Regions from separate parts of the Homo sapiens genome. Here regions 1 and 3 are each linked to region 2. Evidence: fine-mapped expression QTL. A gene starts in region 2. Each other region holds a variant in brackets. All regions are shown on one strand. Distances are between the middles of the regions.

Evidence for each region. PIP is the estimated chance that this variant, and not a neighbour inherited with it, causes the effect. A credible set is the group of variants that fine-mapping cannot tell apart.
Region 1: its variant is the best candidate, but not a certain one, in a credible set for the expression of XRCC2 in CD4 T cells (BLUEPRINT, PIP 0.79).
Region 3: its variant is the best candidate, but not a certain one, in a credible set for the expression of XRCC2 in visceral fat (GTEx, PIP 0.64).

What each region holds. Positions count from the first base shown.
Region 1 is chr7:152,652,838-152,655,602 of GRCh38, forward strand. All of the region lies in intron 2 of XRCC2 (X-ray repair cross complementing 2), which reads right to left. Among named protein-coding and RNA genes, the nearest start is that of XRCC2, 22 kb to the right of the region's middle. The variant C/CAAA (reference allele first, on the strand shown) is at 1,360.
Region 2 is chr7:152,674,691-152,677,455 of GRCh38, forward strand. XRCC2 (X-ray repair cross complementing 2) reads right to left here and starts at 1,451. Exons shown (of 3, transcript NM_005431.2): 1 at 1,351-1,451. The coding sequence starts at 1,389. RefSeq lists silencers at 838-927, 1,228-1,697 and an enhancer at 928-1,772.
Region 3 is chr7:152,645,689-152,648,442 of GRCh38, forward strand. XRCC2 (X-ray repair cross complementing 2) reads right to left here. Exons shown (of 3, transcript NM_005431.2): 3 at 1-2,754. Among named protein-coding and RNA genes, the nearest start is that of XRCC2, 29 kb to the right of the region's middle. The variant G/T (reference allele first, on the strand shown) is at 1,761.

The DNA of each region.
Region 1 (2,765 bases), 22 kb before region 2:
CTGGTAGGGAATGACAGGTGGAGTGTGTGGCTTTGGTGGCAGAGTTCAGCAGGTAAGAAAGTCCTAGACCAGGGTTGACACAGGGACCAACATAGGAGGCAAAGCAAGAGGAGCAAACTGCCAGGTGTGGAGCCTGCTGCCCAGAGACCACAGGGTGCTCACACTTAGCGTGGTGAGGGCCTCAGTTCTGCAGGTGATATGGTTAGGCTGTGTCCCCACCCAAATCTCATTTGAAATCCCACGTATTGTGGGAGGGACCCAGTGGGGGTAATTGAATCATGGGGGCGGGTCTTTCCTGTGCTGTTCTCGTGATAGTGAGTAAGTCTCATGGGATCTGATGCTTATTATAAGGGAGAATTTTCCTGTACAAGCTCTCTTTGCTTGCTGCCATCCACGTAGGATGGGACTTGTTCCTCCTTGCCTTCTGCAATGATTGTGAGGCTTCCCCAGCCACATGGAACTGTAAGTCCAATTAAACCTCTTTCTTTTGTAAATTGCCCAGTCTTGGGTATGTCTTTATCAGCAGCGTAAAAATGGACTAATACAGCAGGTAAACCTAATGTGGTGACTTAAAAGTTCTCAAAGATAGGCTTGGAAGTACCTGCACAAATCAAATACAGACATAAAGTAGACTTTTTTTGAGACAGGGTCTCATTCTGTCGCCCAGGCAAGAGTGTAGTGGCGTGACCTCAGCTCACTGCAACCTCCGCCTCCCAGGCTCAAGCCATCCTCCCACCTCCGCCTCCTGAGTAGCTGGGACCACAGGTGTGTGCCACCACACCTGGGTAATTTTTGTATTTTTTTTGTAGAGATGGAGTCTTGCTGAGTTGCCCAGGGTGGTCTCAAACCCCTGGGTTCAAGTGATCCACCTACCTCAGCCTCCCAAAGTGCTAGACTTATAGGCATGCACCACCACACCCAACCCAAAGTAGAAATTTTTAGTTCACATAATTCACATTGAGTATTCCAGCAAAAATTTAGCTTTCAAAATGGTATGGGTTTTTTAAAATGTTATCTCTAGGTGTCACAAAATGAAAATGTCCTACAGCCACTAAAATTTAAGATTCAAGATGGTAAGCCGGGCGCGGTGGCTCACGCCTGTAATCCCAGTACTTTGGGAGGCTGAGGCAGGTGGATCACCTGAGGTCAGGAGTTCAAGACCAGCCTGGCCAACATGAAGAAACCCTGCTTCTACTAAAAATATAAAAATTAGCTGGGCATGGTGGCACGTGCCTGTAATCCCAGCTACTTGGGAGGCTGAGGCAGGAGAACTGCTTGAACCTGGGAGGCAGAGGGTTGCAGTGAGCCCAGATTGCGCCATTGCACTTCAGCCTGGGCAACAGGAGTGAAACTCCATCT[C/CAAA]AAAAAAAAAAAAAAAAAAAGATTCAAGATGGTAGGTAATAAGGGGCTGGTTATAGCAGACTGGGAGTAATCCACACAGAAATAATAGAGAAAAAACAAAAATCTCTTTGATGGGTGGGTATTATGGACCTAAAATTAAGGCCAAAACTAAATTTTTGAGATATATCCACAGTTAGAAGACGCATTAGAAGACAGCTAAAACAGAAATTTAATAGGAAAACCAGGAAGAAAAACATTACAGGGCAAAAGAGAATGTTTCAAGAAAATGAAACTACTAAATAATAAATATAGCAGAAAAGTCATGACAATGAAAAACAGCAGGGAAAAGATCACTGAGTTTGTCCAAAATAGTGACCTTGGAGCATTAATTGTGTAGTCCGCAAAAGCACATTTAACATCTCATTTTGTGAACCAAACTTTTAAAACTGAGATACTCAGAAGACAGGAGACAACGGCACTAGCCTAGGCATTCACTGCTTCTAGAGTAACAGCAAGGACAGAGTGGATTCCCGACGAGTGAAACTGAGGCAAAGAAGTTGAAGGTTAAATCCCTGCCTAAGAGATACTCTTTTTCTTTTACACATTAATAGCAAAGCAGGTATAAAAAAGGCTTTTATAACAACCGGGAAGACACTGCAAACTTGCAAGAGACACATGAATTATCATTAAGGTCCTTGAACTAAATTCCTCACAAATATGTTTAATGATGAACTGAAATCAGTTTTACTGATTTTATAAACATTTACTGTTTGATCCTCAAGATCAAAACCTGTAATCAAATATTATGTCCTACAGAAGGGACATCATCCTTTTCAATGTACTTGAAGTCACCGTCTCATATGTTTCTGTGGCTGCTACAGCATCCTTGTCCAGCCAAATTATGGAACGTGACAACTCGCAGTAAAAAAATCCCTAAGGTTTGGCACTTGAAGATATTAAACTAAATCAGAAAATCTGGATGATTTGGCCTTGACAGTTCCTCTTACAAATAGAACGCTGTAAGGAGTTTGGGTAACAGATTGTCAGAAAGAGTTCTGAATCTAAAGATCCTTCAAAATAAGGAAAAGAAAGGAAAAGCCAAAAAAGCTATCATCTTGGTACCAGCCTACCAATTATATAACAAATATGTTGAATTTGCAGATTATAATCATTATAGAAGTAAAGAAGTAATGAATTGGTACATGGTACTGAATAACTCCTATCCAAAAAAGCATTAAAAATATGTTTACAGGTTGGGCGTGGTGGTTCACGCCCATAATCCCAGCACTTTGGGAGGCTGAGGTGGGCAGATGGCTTGAGCCCAGGAGTTCAAGACCATCCTGGGCAACATGGCAAAACTCCATCTCTACAAAATACACAAAAATTAGTCTGGTGTGGTGGCACACATCTGTGGTCCCAGCTATTCA
Region 2 (2,765 bases):
TTTTAAATATATATTTATATAATATATTTTTAAATATATATTATATATAAATATATTTTTAAATATATATTATATATAAATATATTTTTAAATATATATATATCTATGGTTTATAACTGTAGCCGTTCTTATACTAAGCAGTGGTTCTACTCTTTAGGAACAGGGATTATCAAACTATGGCCAGCAGGCTAAATCCAAAAAACAAAGCTTTATTGGAACGCTGCCATGTGCCTTTATTTATCTATGACTGCCTTCCCATTAGAACAGCAGAGTTGAGTGGCTGTGACAGAAACGGCATGGCCTGCAAAGCCTAAATATTTACCACATGGCCCTCCACAAAAATGTTTGCTGACTCTTTTGAGATTGCTTCCTCTCTCATCTGCATAAAAGATCCTTCATACCCTGCCCACTGCTCAGCGCTTACTTCCCAACCTATTGTCCCTCACTCCCTTTGTTCCAATTTTACAGAAATACTTGCAGTTATCTAAATTAGCCATGCTCTTGCTTAATTCAGAATCCATGTACTCCCGACTGTCTCCGCTCTGAATGTCATCCTCTCCTTGCCAAACCATTTCAAATGGTCCTTGAAACTTCAGTCATCTCCTCCTGCATCTTCCATGATGCCCGCCCCTCTAATGGACAACAAACTTTTGTGCAATACTGTAATTCTTACAGCAGCCTCCCTTACTAGTTCTTTAATGGCAGAAGTTATGTCTTTTGTTGCTTACTCCTATCCCTTAACACGTAGTTGACACACAGTAAGTGCTGGACACTTGGTTCAATTCTTGAGGGGCATCCACCGGCTTGTGTGGCTCTGGAGCTACCTGGGCTGGAAACGAATACTAGGGGGTGGCGAGGGCCAGCTGCCCTAAGCAGAGACACGTGGGCTACAGGGAGGTGAGGCAACCTCCGCAAACACCACCTGTTCCAGAAAAGCTCCAAATGCTCCAACGGGCGACCCCTCCCCTTTTCTAGCTTTTCTTGCATAGCTTGACATTTCCAACGGTAGTTAATTTGTGAGGGGTTTTTAGACCATAACTCTTGGGAGGAGAGACCTCGTATGTTATATCGATCTGGGCAGGCAGCAAGTCTTCCAAAGAAAGACTTCCTCCACCTCCGCCCGGTCCTCCCACCTCGGAGGACTCCAGGCTGCCCAGGGGCGGACCCCTGGGGCCCAGGTGAGAGGTGGCAGAGGGTGCCAGCATCGCGGGCGTCTAGGCCGAGAGGCCGGTCCCAGCCCGGCCAGGCCGCGCCGCCCCAAGCCTCCCAATCCCCCGGGTTCCCTCGGCTCCCCTCGCCCACCGGCGGCCTTGTTCCCATCTCCCTCACTCCCAACCCGGCGGCTCTCACCTCGGTCCCAGACTCAGCCCTATGGAAGGCACTACACATCGCCCCGAAGGCTCGGCGCAGGAGAGACTCAACTTTCCCGCCACCAACGCCATTCACCAACTGCGCAGACTCTACGGCCAGTCAAACCCGCCCACCCGCGCGCGTGCGCACTGCGCCAGGCCGCGGCCGGGGAGGCGGGAGCATGCGCAATAGGGTGTGCGGGCCTCCCCGCCCCGCCCCCAGTTCCTGTGACGTCAGACTTCCGCGTCCCCCGCGGCGCTCTCCCGCGTCCCCTTGGAGATCGCTCCGGGGTGGCGGGGACAGCTGGTGCTTTTCTTGTCTGTTGTAAACTTTGGTTCGTTATTATTATATTAGGTAAAGCTGGTCTTATGTATTAATTTGTTTAACCATTAAAAATAATTGTATTGCACAAGCAGGCCCCTTTGTCCGTTCTCGGGTTAAAAGCCTCTGGCTGTGTGTGCGATTCATGGTTAATTCTGGAAAAAAAGAGAAAAGTATACTGTATTTAAAAGAATTTTTAAAATATACCGAGCCTGTGGATTTATCAAGTTGCTTTTTGAGGTAGGCAGGAGGATCACTGGAAGTCGGGAGTTCGAGACCAGCCTGGCCAAAATGGTGAAACCCCGTCTACAGTAAAAATACAAAAATTAGCCAGGTGTGGTGGCGCATGCCTGTAATCCCAGCTACTCAGGGAGGCTGAGGCAGGAGAATCGCTTGAACCAGGGAGGCAGAGGTTGCAGTGAGCCGAGATCGCGCCATCACACCTGAGCGGCAGAGCGAGACTCTGTCTCAAAAAAAAAAAAAGACAAAAATTTGGATATAGTAGCATTGGCCATTATTATCAAGATGACAAAATGTTTTCTGGAATGAAAAAGTTTCATGCAAAGATATACTTTTCACCCACCTAGTTTAGTTTTCAAAAACGCTAGGAAAGAGCATATACCAATGAAGTATTTCTCATGGGTAATATTAAAGTTGCTCATTTTGTAAATTGGAATGGTTTTGGTTCCAAGTCACAGAAAACCCAACTCTTACGTCCTGAAACAAATGGGCTTTACCGGGTGACATCACTAGAAGTCCAAAGGTAAGACAGGCTTCAAGGTTAGTTTAATTGAGAGGCTTGATGAGGCAAACAAGTACCTCATTTCTTTTTACCTCAGATTCATGTTTTCTACCTTGGCCTCTTCTCTACGTAGGGCTGCGGGCCCGTATCTGAAACATTAACAACCATCAGGAATGAGGTTGGTCTGGTTAGCTTAGGCCTGAATCGTGTGCCCCACTTACTTTTCTTTTTTTCTTTTTTTTTTTTTTTTTGGAGACGGAGTCTCATTGCACTCTCGCCCAGGCTGGAGTGCAGTGGTACCATCTCGGCTCACTGCAACCTCTGCCTCCCGGGTTCAAGTGATTCTTCTGCC
Region 3 (2,754 bases), 29 kb before region 2:
AAGAGACACTTCTAATATTTCACTATTAACTAATGTTTACTGAGGGATTTTTGTATATACCTTTTATCAATTCAAGGGACTCAGCTAGGCAAGGTGGCACACACCTGTAATCACAGCTACTTTGGAGGCTGAGGTGGAGGCTCACTGGAACCCAGGAGTTCGAGGCTGCAGTGAGTTATGATGCCACTGCACTCCAGCCTGGGCAACGGAGCGAGACCTTGTCTCTAAAAATAAAACAGCAAATATGTATTTTAAAAACCAGCCTAAAACTGTCATTTTAACTGGAGTCCTCAGTCCCTTTGCATGTAATGTAATGATTGGTGTGGATGGAGTTAAATACACCATCTCCTCTGTGCTTTGGATCTGTCCTGCTGTATTCGGTTCTTTTAAATTTAAAAATCAGCCCACCATTTTCCTGTTTCATTTTAAAGTTATGCCCCTTTTCTATCCTTGAGTGGTTAAGAAATCAAAAGGTGCAGACCCTTTATCAATGTCTAATGTTGATACTTTTCCCCTTCTCCCGGACAATGCAAGGACCTTAGCACACTAATTCTTCTGCTCCTAATGTCAAATTATATGCTTTTCTTGCCACGTATTCTAAGTCTGTGAGAGGGTGTGTGTGTGTGTGTGTGTGTGTGTTGTTCCCTTCTTTGTATCCAGGAGTTCTCATCATTTAGCTCCCACTTATAAGTGAAAACATGCAGTATCTGGTTTTCTGTTCCTATGTTAGTTTGCTAAGGATAATAGCGTCCAGCTCCATCCATGTCCCTGGCAAAGGTATGATCTTGTTCCTTATATTTTATTTTTTATTTTTTAGAGATGGAGTCGCCCAGGCGGGAGTGCAATGGCGCGATCTCAGCTCACTGCAACCTCCACCTCCTGGGTTCCAGCAATTCTCCTGCCTCGGCCTCCTGAGTAGCTGGCACTACAGGCACGCACCACCATGCCCAGCTAATTTTTTGTATTTTAATAGAGATGGGGTTTCACCGTGTTGCCCAGGCTGGTCTTGACCTCCTGAGCGCGGGCAATCCACCCACCTCGGCCTCGCAAAGTGCTAGGATCACAGGCATGAGCCACCACGCCCAGTCAGTCTTGTTCCTTTTTATGGCTGTATAGTATTCCCTGGTGTGTATGTACCACATTTTTTTAATCCAGTCTGTCACTGATGGGCAGTGCTGCAACGAACATACGCGTGCATGTGTCTTTATAACAATGATTTCTATTCCTTTGGGTATATACCCAGTAATGAGATTGCTGGGTTGAATGGTATCTCTGTCTTTATCCCCACACTGTCTTCCACAATGGCTGAACTAATTTAATTTACATTTCCACCAACAGTGTATAAGCATATCTTTTTCTCCACAACCTCACCAGCATCTGTTATTTTCTGACATTTTTATAATAGCCATTTGGACTGGTGTGAGATGGTATCTCGTTGTTGTTTCGATTTGCATTTCTCTAATGATCAGTGATGCTGGGCTTTTTTCCATAGGATTGTTGGCCACAGATGTCTTCTTTTGAAAAGTGTCTGTTCATGTCCTTTGCCCACTTTTTAATGGGGTGGTTTTTTCTTCTAAATTTGTTTAAATTACGTATAGATGCTGGATTTCAGACCTTTCTCAGATGCATAGTTTGCAACAATTTTCTCCCATTCTGTAAGCTGTCTGTTTACTCTCTTGATAGTTTCTTTTGCTGTGCAGCTCTTTAGTTTAATTAGATCCCATTTGTGAATTTTTGCTTCTGTTGCAATTGTTTTTGGC[G/T]TCTTCGTCATGAAATCTTTGCCTGTGCCTATGTCCTGAATGGTACTGCCTGGGTTGTCTTCCAGGATTTTTACTGTTTTGGGTTTTACATTAAGTCTTTAATCCATCTTGAGTTAATTTTTGTATATGGCATAAGGAAGGCGTCCATTTTCAATCTTTTCCATATGGCTGGCCAGTTATCCCAGCACGATTTATTGAATAGAGAATCCATTGCCCATTGCTTGTTTTTGTCAGGTTCATCGAAGATCAAAAAAATTATAGGTGTGTGGTCTCATTTCTAAATTCTCTATTCTGTTCCATCAGTCTACGTGTGTTTTTGTGCCAGTACTATGCTGTTTTGGTTACTGTAGCCTTGTAGTATAGTTTGAAGCTGGGTAGCGTGATGCCTCCAGCTTTGTTCTTTTTGCTTAGGATTGCCTTACTATCAATATTTCTTTAGATTTACTCAAGTACTTACCATTTACTCATTATTACTTCTTACCTCTCAGATTTACTTTCTGAGATAATCTTTTAAAAGTTCCTTTGTGAAGAAATATTGGTGGTAAATTAATACAAAGTTTAATTGCTAAAATCACTTTGATTCAACAGCCTAGAAACAGAATAGTCTTTACTTTTACTGTGCTAGTTTAACAAATCCATTCTGTAAAGAAATACTGTTAATTCCCCTAGAGTTTAAAACTTTAGGGCTGGGCACGGGCCTGTAATCCTAGCACTTTGGGAGGCCGAGGTGGGTGGATCACTTGAGGTCAGGAGTTCGAGACCAGCCTGGCCAACATGGTGAAACCCCGTCTCTATTAAAAATACAAAAATTAGCCAGGCGTGGTGGTGGGTGCCTGTAATCCCAGCTACCTGGGAGGCTGAGGTGGAAGAATCACTTGAACCCAAGAGGCAGAGGCTGCAGCGGGCCGAGATTGTGCCACTGCACTCCAGCAGCCTGGGAGACAGAGTAAGACTGTTTCAAAAAGAAAAAAAAAAAAAAAGAAAACTTTTGGCC